2 separate regions of the Homo sapiens genome follow, and region 1 is reported to be linked to region 2. Evidence: microRNA targets listed by miRTarBase, many of them from high-throughput screens and not tested one by one. Region 2 holds a microRNA gene; the other region holds the end of a gene's coding sequence.

Region 1 (4,355 bases), not on the chromosome of region 2:
GTTGACTTTCCACCTGAGGTATTTGCTTCTGCGCAAGCCAATTCTCCCTCCCCCCTTTCCCACTCAACAGCCATCTCAGATGGATATTGGGGCTCTGATTGTCAATATTACTCAAACACAAATGGATTTCAATTCAATCTTGCCCTGTACTTTCACAAAGATAAACTCTAATGGCCCAAAGAGCTTCATTTCATAGCTTGTGGCATCTGAAATAAATCAGATATCTTCTGTCAGACTAATTTAACATTTTAACAATATTTGATGTGATTTATTTAAAGTCAAATGAAACTGAATGGATTGGCAGAAAACTAGAGGAGGGGGCAGGAGAAGGGCAGCTGGAAGCTTCCAAAAAACAAAAAACAAAAAAGAAAAAAAGGAAGAAAAGAAAAGAACCAAGAGGGGAGAGGAAAGTGTTTTAAGTTTCTAGTAAACATTGTTTAGCAAAAGAATAATAGGAAAGTTGCCCCTTTTCCAAAGAGGGATGGAACTATAATTGTTGCCTTTAGTTGAGAGCTCAGATAAACTGCTGGGACTCATTCTAAAGTGACCCATCACTGCATTCATCTCTTCTTGAACTTTCGGTGAACCTGAGATTAAACAGGGGTGAGCAGCTAAGCAGTTTGTTGTTAGCAGCCTTTTCAACAACCCTTTCAGACTGAGTAAATATTGATCGGTTTGAATCTGATTGCCCCAGAGGAAAACACCACCGCATTTGAATAGCCTCCAAAAGTAAACTTTAAAAGGTGAAACCCAGAGCAGACTTCAGAGCCAAAGCAAGACCTCAACTCAGCCTAGTTTGGGAACACTCTGTATTTGGGGAGTACTGTGGATAAATGTAGAGGAAGTGAGGAAAAAAACATTGGAAAACTAGAATTTTGTATCGCAGTTATCCCAGGTGCCTAACTGAGACCCTTGTTTCCTTTGTAAATGTATCAATAAAATGTTATTTTCAGTTTTCCCACTCTGTGTTGTTTCAGTTACCATTGCTGTCATTTTTCAAGTAGCTAACTGTGCTCCTTAGAGACCAAAGCAGAGAGACCTTGAAATAGGATGTGTTAAGCGCCTTTGATTTAATCGATTGAGACAGCTAAAAAGATACAAATGTTTTCCTTGTTGAAAGGTGTATTAATGTTTCCTAAATGCATTGCTTGTTAACTGATTTATTCCATGACCTAGAGAAAGCTAGAGATGGTTAGCCATAATTTATTGTTCTCTCTTGCTGCTACATTAAAACCAGCATCTTAAAGACTGGAATCTCTGGGATTCCAGTGGATCTCGCCCTGCTTTTAGATATTGAAATGGAGTCAATGGCATGCAAATGACACTTTAACACATTAAAGTATTTGGAAGCCAGCCATCTGTTTTGCTGTGTGGCCCTACACTAATAAACAAAAGATACAGTATAAGGCCAGGCAGGAAATGAAAGAAAGGGTTGACCGTCTTTGAAGTTCTTCTCCATCCACTTGAGTCTTTTACAGGCAACCTCAGAACCCAGCAGCTGAGGGGAGGGCACCCGGTGCCCTTGATATGGCCGCAGCAACTGCACCGCAAAGTTCAGCCTTCTCTTCTTTGACAGGGAAGTGCAGGAATTCTCACAAGTGCCCTAGACGGCCTGCAAATTCCAAATTTTTGTAGGGTTTTTCTCCTCCAGCCCGTCCTTTGTAAAACACCCTTTGGGGAGGAAGGAAGTCATCTGTCTGTGTTTGTTTTCAATGCTGTAAATTTTCTGCTGTACTGTTGGGCTAAATAAAATGCCTCCAAAAATGTGTGAAAGTAAAGGAAAGCAATAAAGAGGCCTGGGAGGAGAGCCACTTTGAACTCTATCATTTGCTGGCTTCCTCTTTTGAGAGCAGATACATACCTTGGTCAGAAACAACTTGGATATTGAAAGACTTCAGGGTAGCTTCCACAAGTTCACCTGGAAGTACCTGTGGAGCCCAGAGAAGAAAATGACTTTTTTTTTCTGGGTTATGTGGCATGGAATTAGAACTGTGGATCCTTTACAGCCATGACGGCTATGAAATCAAAGCTGAGTCTGAAGGGAATAAGATGTGCAACCCAGAGATGGGGAAGAAGGGGTGAAGAGCCGCAGGAAGGGATGGATGTTGACAGGAAGAATGGGGGAAGGGATGCAAGGGTTTACTAAAAACACTCCATTTCAAGGGTGGAATATATCAGAACTCTGCCTGACAATCCAAAAAGAAGGAAGAGGAGTGGAATAAGGGCCCCATCCTCACAACAACTTTATACTGGAGCTAATTAAATGTGAATCTCTTAGCTCTTGGTTCACTGATGTGAGGAAAGACTGACTGAAGACAGTTTTGGCTTTTGAAGGGAGTTCTGTTTATATATACGTCAACATCCAGTTGGAGGTGAAAAGGTTAGCACTTGACCCAGGAAGTATCCATGTTTGTTTCAAAAATAAATCTGCTTCATAAATTTCTTCATCAGTCTTTTTTTCCATTATGAGCTTTGATTATAATAAAGGAGCTGTTATTAACTTTTATTCAAGAAAAGGCCCATCTCTTTGAAAATATTTACCACCCTTCTCCCTTTCCCCTCATGAAATGTGCCAACTTCATAGGAATTAACAAATTGTAGCCCAGCCAAATACACGGATGCTTAAGCATACCTGAAACTTGAGTATATTTATTTATTACAGACATCCTAAGACCCGTAAACTCTGCTCTGGATCATATCACTCCAGGATCTCAGAGCTGTTCATGATTGTACAGGAAATGGGGAATATCATAGGCTCACAAAGGATAACTGATAGAACTCAGTGTGGTACTTTGGGGACATCAAACATTGTGCGACATGCAAAAGACTATTCACGAATAACACAAAATATACATTCATTGTGCCATCCATCACATTAACAATTGAGCTGAAAATACATTATATCCAGCTAAGATAACTGTGGAAGGAAGAAATTGGTTTGAATAATACTTTTAGGTTCTGAATAACCCAGCACAAATTTTAAACAGAGGGTGGCCCGAGAAGAAAGGGGTAGAGATTGGGAAAGACTTAGCACAGGAAGCCGGGTTTCTGAAGTTTGTGCTCTGCAGGGCTTCTTAACTGTAAGAACAAATCAAGGCTACCCTCTGAGGCATCTGATTGGGTTTAAATGAGGGAATTTTTTCTTTCACCTATAAAATTGTACCAGTTTAGAGAGTTTGCCCACCCTGTTTTAGTAACCTAAACATTTCTAGAAAATCTGTATAAAGATAAATCTCTTAGGACAAAGTATTTACAACCAGCAAACTCACACACATGAAAATGACTTAAATTAAGGGATGAATTAATTGTGTAAACATATAGTGCATCTCTTCTTCCTGAGCTCCTGGACTCGCCTTTCGCTATATCCTACTTTCAAGGACAAGGGAGGGGAGAGCTGTACATATAGTTAGATAAAAGATGAGAAGATTCCTTCTGGCATGTTTCTGTTGGCAAAGGGAACTATTTTCCAAAAGGTCATCTGAAAGGAACAGTAGGTTCTGTGAATTCTCCTAAAAGCAGGAGGGATGTTAAGGCCCACCAGAAAATGTATGCTGGCACCCAATCTGGATGAAGGTGTTAACCCCGCACCAAGTCTCTGGTCCAGAATTATCTGCAAATATATTATCCTGGCCAGGAGCTCCCCAGATAGGATTAGAAAGGAAGAAAGAGACTGTAAATGGAAAGAAAGATAAGCTAAGCATGTGCTTTGGGTAAGAAGTCCCAGCCCAAGGAGATGCCTGGGCTGTTGTCTGGGGCTGGAGCCGCCTCAGTGGGAGGTAGTCAGAGTGTCTGAGGTAGAAGACCCCGGGGAAGGAACGCAGGGCGAAGAGCTGGACTTCTCTGAGGATTCCTCGGCCTTCTCGTCGTTTCCTGGCGGGGTGGCCGGAGAGATGGGCAAGAGACCCTCCTTCTCACGTTTCTTTTGCTTCATTCGGCGGTTCTGGAACCAGATCTTCACTTGGGTCTCGTTGAGCTGCAGGGATGCAGCGATCTCCACCCTGCGGGCGCGCGTCAGGTACTTGTTGAAGTGGAACTCCTTCTCCAGTTCCGTGAGCTGCTTGGTAGTGAAGTTGGTGCGCACCGCGTTGGGTTGACCCAGGTAGCCGTACTCTCCAACTTTCCCTGGGGCAAAGTGGGAAGCCATGAGACGGAAATGTAAAAATTTTTAAATCGACTTGAGATTCCCCACACGCTTCATGGCAACACTCAGGTAAAGAAAAGATCAAGAACTCAGCACAAATCGGGCTGTGGAGGGTGAGTGATGAGGTGTAAAGTGTTAACCTGATGTAAACCATTAGCATGGTCAGACCGGTGATTAATGGAGCCTCAAGATATTAACAGAACACTACCGTCAC
Region 2 (4,399 bases):
CTGGGCCTAGATTCAATAAGTCGGAGTCTCAAGTCCAAGCTGGGGGCTGAAAGTTGGGGATAAGTGGAAAGAGTTGGCCCCATCACAGAGTTGAGGGATGAATCATTCTGTCCAATGATGACAACACAACCACTCAGTCATTTAAACAGGGAACATTTAAATAATTCTTAACACTAATAGCAGTTTGGAATAACAAGGGATTAGCTCATAAGAAATGACAAGAACTCTTAAGGAATATGGGAATGGCAGATATGAGGAGAAGCTGCTACCCCTGGGGCTGGCATAGGGCACTCTAGGGAGGACCCCACCCTACCAGGCCTGAGATCCAGATGTTGTTGGAGGGTGTGGCCTTGGGTCACTTGATGACAAAGGAGTCACTAAGGTGCCACACAATATAATGGAGCTTGCTAGAAATCTGCCCTTTGGATTGTTGAGGAAAGCTGTTCATGGAGGGGTGTCTTGCTGGAGGCATTCTGCTACAGAATTGCACAGCGGGGCATACTGAGGGAAGCTGCTGGCCACCTGGTGCTGGAGAAGCTTCCTCTGCTGCAGGAGCCTGTTGAAGGAGCACACCAGAACCAGGAACCAAACCCTTTCCTCTGGCAGCGTCTATGCAACACCCTCTACTGACAAAGCTTAACATCAGGCCAACTGGGAAAGGAGTAATATTTCAGCGGCCCATCCATATTTTCATAGTGTTAGCAGAAAAGGTGAATTTGGATTTGATAGCCTATGCAGGAAAAGAGCATGTTACTGAAGGAAAATAGGGTTCTATTACCATAAGAAGGGAGATGATAGATTCAGGTCAGGCAACAGATTTTAACTACAGAAAGAGCTTTACGAACCAAGGAAAGAACAAAGGCATGAGATTAAGAGAGGAGTCTTGGAGTGTTTGAAACACCAGTGATTCTATTGTTGGTGCATAGTGGGCAAGGTGGGGAGAGGCAATAACAAAGTTGAACAGAGAGATCCAGGTTATGGACAGTCTTGGATAACATGATAATTAGTTTGCACTCTATATATAGGTTATGGGGAGCCACTGAGTAGTACTAATAATTTGATTCAGATTAGTGATTTAGAAAAATAATTTTGGTAGCAGTGTGGAGAAGGAATTAGAAGAGGAACACATAAAGAGACTGTTGAAATTATCTAGGCCAATGAATGAATGAAAAGCTGGCTAAGACAATGGCAGTGTTTATTGTGAAAAAGAGGTAGATTTTACAGATACTCAGGATATAGAGGCACAGTGAATAGAACTTGGAGACCAATCATATGGGGCAAGGCTTTAGAAACTCACCCTTTCTGAAAAATCAATGCAGCATAGCTCAGAAATTGAGTATGGGCTCTGGAGCAAACTACCTGGGCTCAAATCCAGGCTCCTACACTTACTTGCTGTGAGACTTCTGACAGGTTATACAACTCCTCTCCTCCGATTTCAGTCTCTACCGGATAAGCATAGGGAATAAGAAAACCATCAAATTCAAAGAACTGTTTTTTGGGACTAAATAAGATAGACGTAAGCCATTTAGAACACTATCTTGTATATCAGAAGAACTCAATGACACTGGTGTCATTTTTTTTTGTACAAACTGAAAATAACTTTGGAAATATATAATAAACTAAATTGTTGTGCTTTGTATAACACACTTATACACACATTTGTATAACACACATTGATGCGCTTTAAGCATCAATGACACTAGCATGTAATCATTCTTTGCTTCTGATGAAATCATTTTTTTCTTCCCTTGTTGACAAGGAAAGACACAATTTAATCAAGAAGACCAACTTAACTTTATGGGGCAGAAATATAAAGTATGATAATGCTGAGACACCAATGGCCATACCAGAGTATCTGATTAAATAAGTACAATAGTTAGATGGCGGGTCTTACATGCATTCATTCTTTCATGCATTTGGCCAACTCCTATTTCCAAGATAGTTATTTTTAAATTTCACTGTAAAAGTAGACTGTAACAAGAGATTTACATATGATCCATTAAATAGTTTTGTCAGTGTCACTTAAAATCCAGTCAACTTAGGTAACAATAGTAAACCCTGGAATGGGGTCAGTCTGTCCAAACAGAAATGATAATCATAACAGCAACGATTTCTAGTAATGGTATAGCCAGCAATTTTCTACAGGGAACCAGAACACACAGTGCAGGCAGGGATGTATCAGACTCCTCAATTCCACACTATCCCATCCCCAGATGCCGACCTTATGGTAGACTCTGCATAAATATTTAATGAATAAATGAATTATAGGGCTGCTTTATTTATTTATTTGTTTATTTATTTTGAGACGGAGTCTCGCACTGTCGCCCAGGCTGGAGTGCAGTGGCGCGATCTCGGCTCACTGCAAGCTCCGCCTCCCGGGTTCATGCCATTCTGGTGCCTCAGCCTCCTGAGTAGCTGGGACTATAGGCACCCACCACCACGCCTGGCTAATTTTTTGTATTTTTAGTAGAGACTGAGTTTCACTGTGTTAGCCAGGATGGTCTCGAAATCCTGACCTCGTGATCCGCCCGCCTCGGCCTCCCGAAGTGCTGGGATTACAGGCGTGAGCCACCGCGGCCAGCCTGCTTTTTTATGTTGAAGTAAGTAAGTACAGTTTCAACCAGGAAAATTAGACACTGATTTAATGACTATCTCAAACAATATGACACAGTTCTAGACTAAATAATAGGAGTAGACAGGCTTGCTTTAGGAATGGTGGTACAGGCTATTTTGAACAGGCCTGCGAAAAGGCCAAGATTTTAAGAGTTGTAAGTGACAAGTTCTGAAAAGAATTTCTTAACCCACTAAATTGGGAATAAATTTTAGTGTCTTCTCTAGAAGTGTCAGTCTTTTCAGCTTTATCTATGCACTGGTTATAAATATTAAGGACAAAAATACGTGGTTTAGCAAAGAGTTCTGGCTTTGGTGTTTATAAGCCCAGCCTGGTCAGCGGGAGAAGAATGCCTGGCTGTAATGTCCAAGATCATGAGGGCATTTTTAATGGGAAAGGGTATGACAGCTGCCTCTGAGGGATCCCTTTATGTCAGCTCATTAGAAATCATTTCCCAATCCAGGACATAAGTGTCTTCCAAACCTCCCCCTTATCAAAGGGCTCAGCCGTTGACACCAGTGTCCTTCTTAGAGCCATCACTAGGCAGCCCACTGCCTGTATTCTCTCTGCAGCTTTCTTTCTAGTTCTGCCAGAGCCCCTGTCATCCACAGACTTTCCAAGAGTAAGATAAAAACCTTTATCTTCAAAATTATTAAGGCATTTTTCCCCCATGCAGCAAGTTGGTGTCTCTATTTAATGAGCCCCTAATTCTTGCCATACATTTTGCTAAGCAAATGTATGATTTTGCTAATATGTATGATTTGATATTTTGCATTTCTTATCTCCTTTAATTCCCACAAAATCTGTGCATAGTGTGTAGACATTATTATCCTCATTTTATTAATGAAGACGTGAGGATTGGAGAAGTTAAATAGCTTGCCCTGGATCACAGAGCTTGCCAATGACATCGTTGGGGTTCAAATCCAGACCAATCTGACCTCATAGCCCTCCTCACACAGTTGTACTTAACATTCTTCATGGTGGGGCCCAGACAGGTGTATCTTGGTTAAAGTGTCCCAGGGTTTTCTTCTGTATCTTCTGCTCTTTGTTCAACTCGCAGTCCTGAACTCCTCCATGAACAGTAAATGTTTGAGAGCAAGGTATTTGTTTGGGCCATAGGAGTCACTTTCCTTTCTCTAGCTGCCCAGAAAGGACAAAAGATCCTTGACTGTTCAAAATCCTTGACTGTTCAAAAATAAAGACTTAATTTTTATATTAATTTTGAATTGTCAATATTGTCTGTTCACTAAACTTATTTTTTCTTCTTTTTCTACGTCCCTTCAATATTCTATCTATCTGTCTATCTATCAATCATCCATCAATCATCTATCTAATCTATCTGTCTATCTATCCTATCCATCCATCCATCTCCATCTCTCATCTATCTACTAGTAGTGTGTGCCCATAATCCAGACTTTAGTTCCATTTCCTTTATTTCTGTGGGACCTTGGACAGATTCTGCCCCGTGATTCTTTGTGAGAACTTTTAGACTTCTTAGATCCTTCTGGATTCAAACTCTGCATGTAACTTAAGTTTACCTTTACACGGAAAGACCCCATTCTTGGTGTTTCTTTGGAAAAATATTTTATTGAATTATAAGAAATTAAAACTGGCATCTAGATTCTTCAGAGAAAACCACTGAGAAAATAAGTTATGTGTAACACCGTAAAATAAGTATTCCAAATTGGTCTGATTAACAGCCTATGAGAAGCCTGTTTTATATATATTAGAAAACAAATCCAGAATTTAGCTCCCTCTGAGATAATTATTGTGCTCTTCCCTGGAACC

The links. Region 2 holds the annotated microRNA hsa-miR-8080 (GAAGGACACUGGUGUCAACGGCU, at 3,116-3,138, opposite strand). A microRNA usually pairs through its seed, bases 2 to 8, with sites in the 3' UTR of a target mRNA and lowers its output. Matches are read on the target gene's strand: a 7mer-m8 pairs with bases 2 to 8, a 7mer-A1 pairs with bases 2 to 7 and ends in A, and an 8mer does both.
Region 1: miRTarBase lists HOXA1 as a target of hsa-miR-8080. Seed matches in the 3' UTR shown: 7mer-m8 at 3,375-3,381.

Annotation. Positions count from the first base shown.
Region 1 is chr7:27,090,674-27,095,028 of GRCh38, forward strand. It overlaps HOXA1 (homeobox A1), which reads right to left. Exons shown (of 2, transcript NM_005522.5): 2 at 2,320-4,122. The coding sequence ends at 3,767. Among named protein-coding and RNA genes, the nearest start is that of HOXA1, 3.1 kb to the right of the region's middle. RefSeq lists enhancers at 915-1,825, 3,414-3,914, 3,915-4,355.
Region 2 is chr2:79,863,436-79,867,834 of GRCh38, forward strand. It overlaps MIR8080 (microRNA 8080), which reads right to left and starts at 3,148; the gene lies at 3,060-3,148. All of the region lies in intron 4 of CTNNA2 (catenin alpha 2), which reads left to right.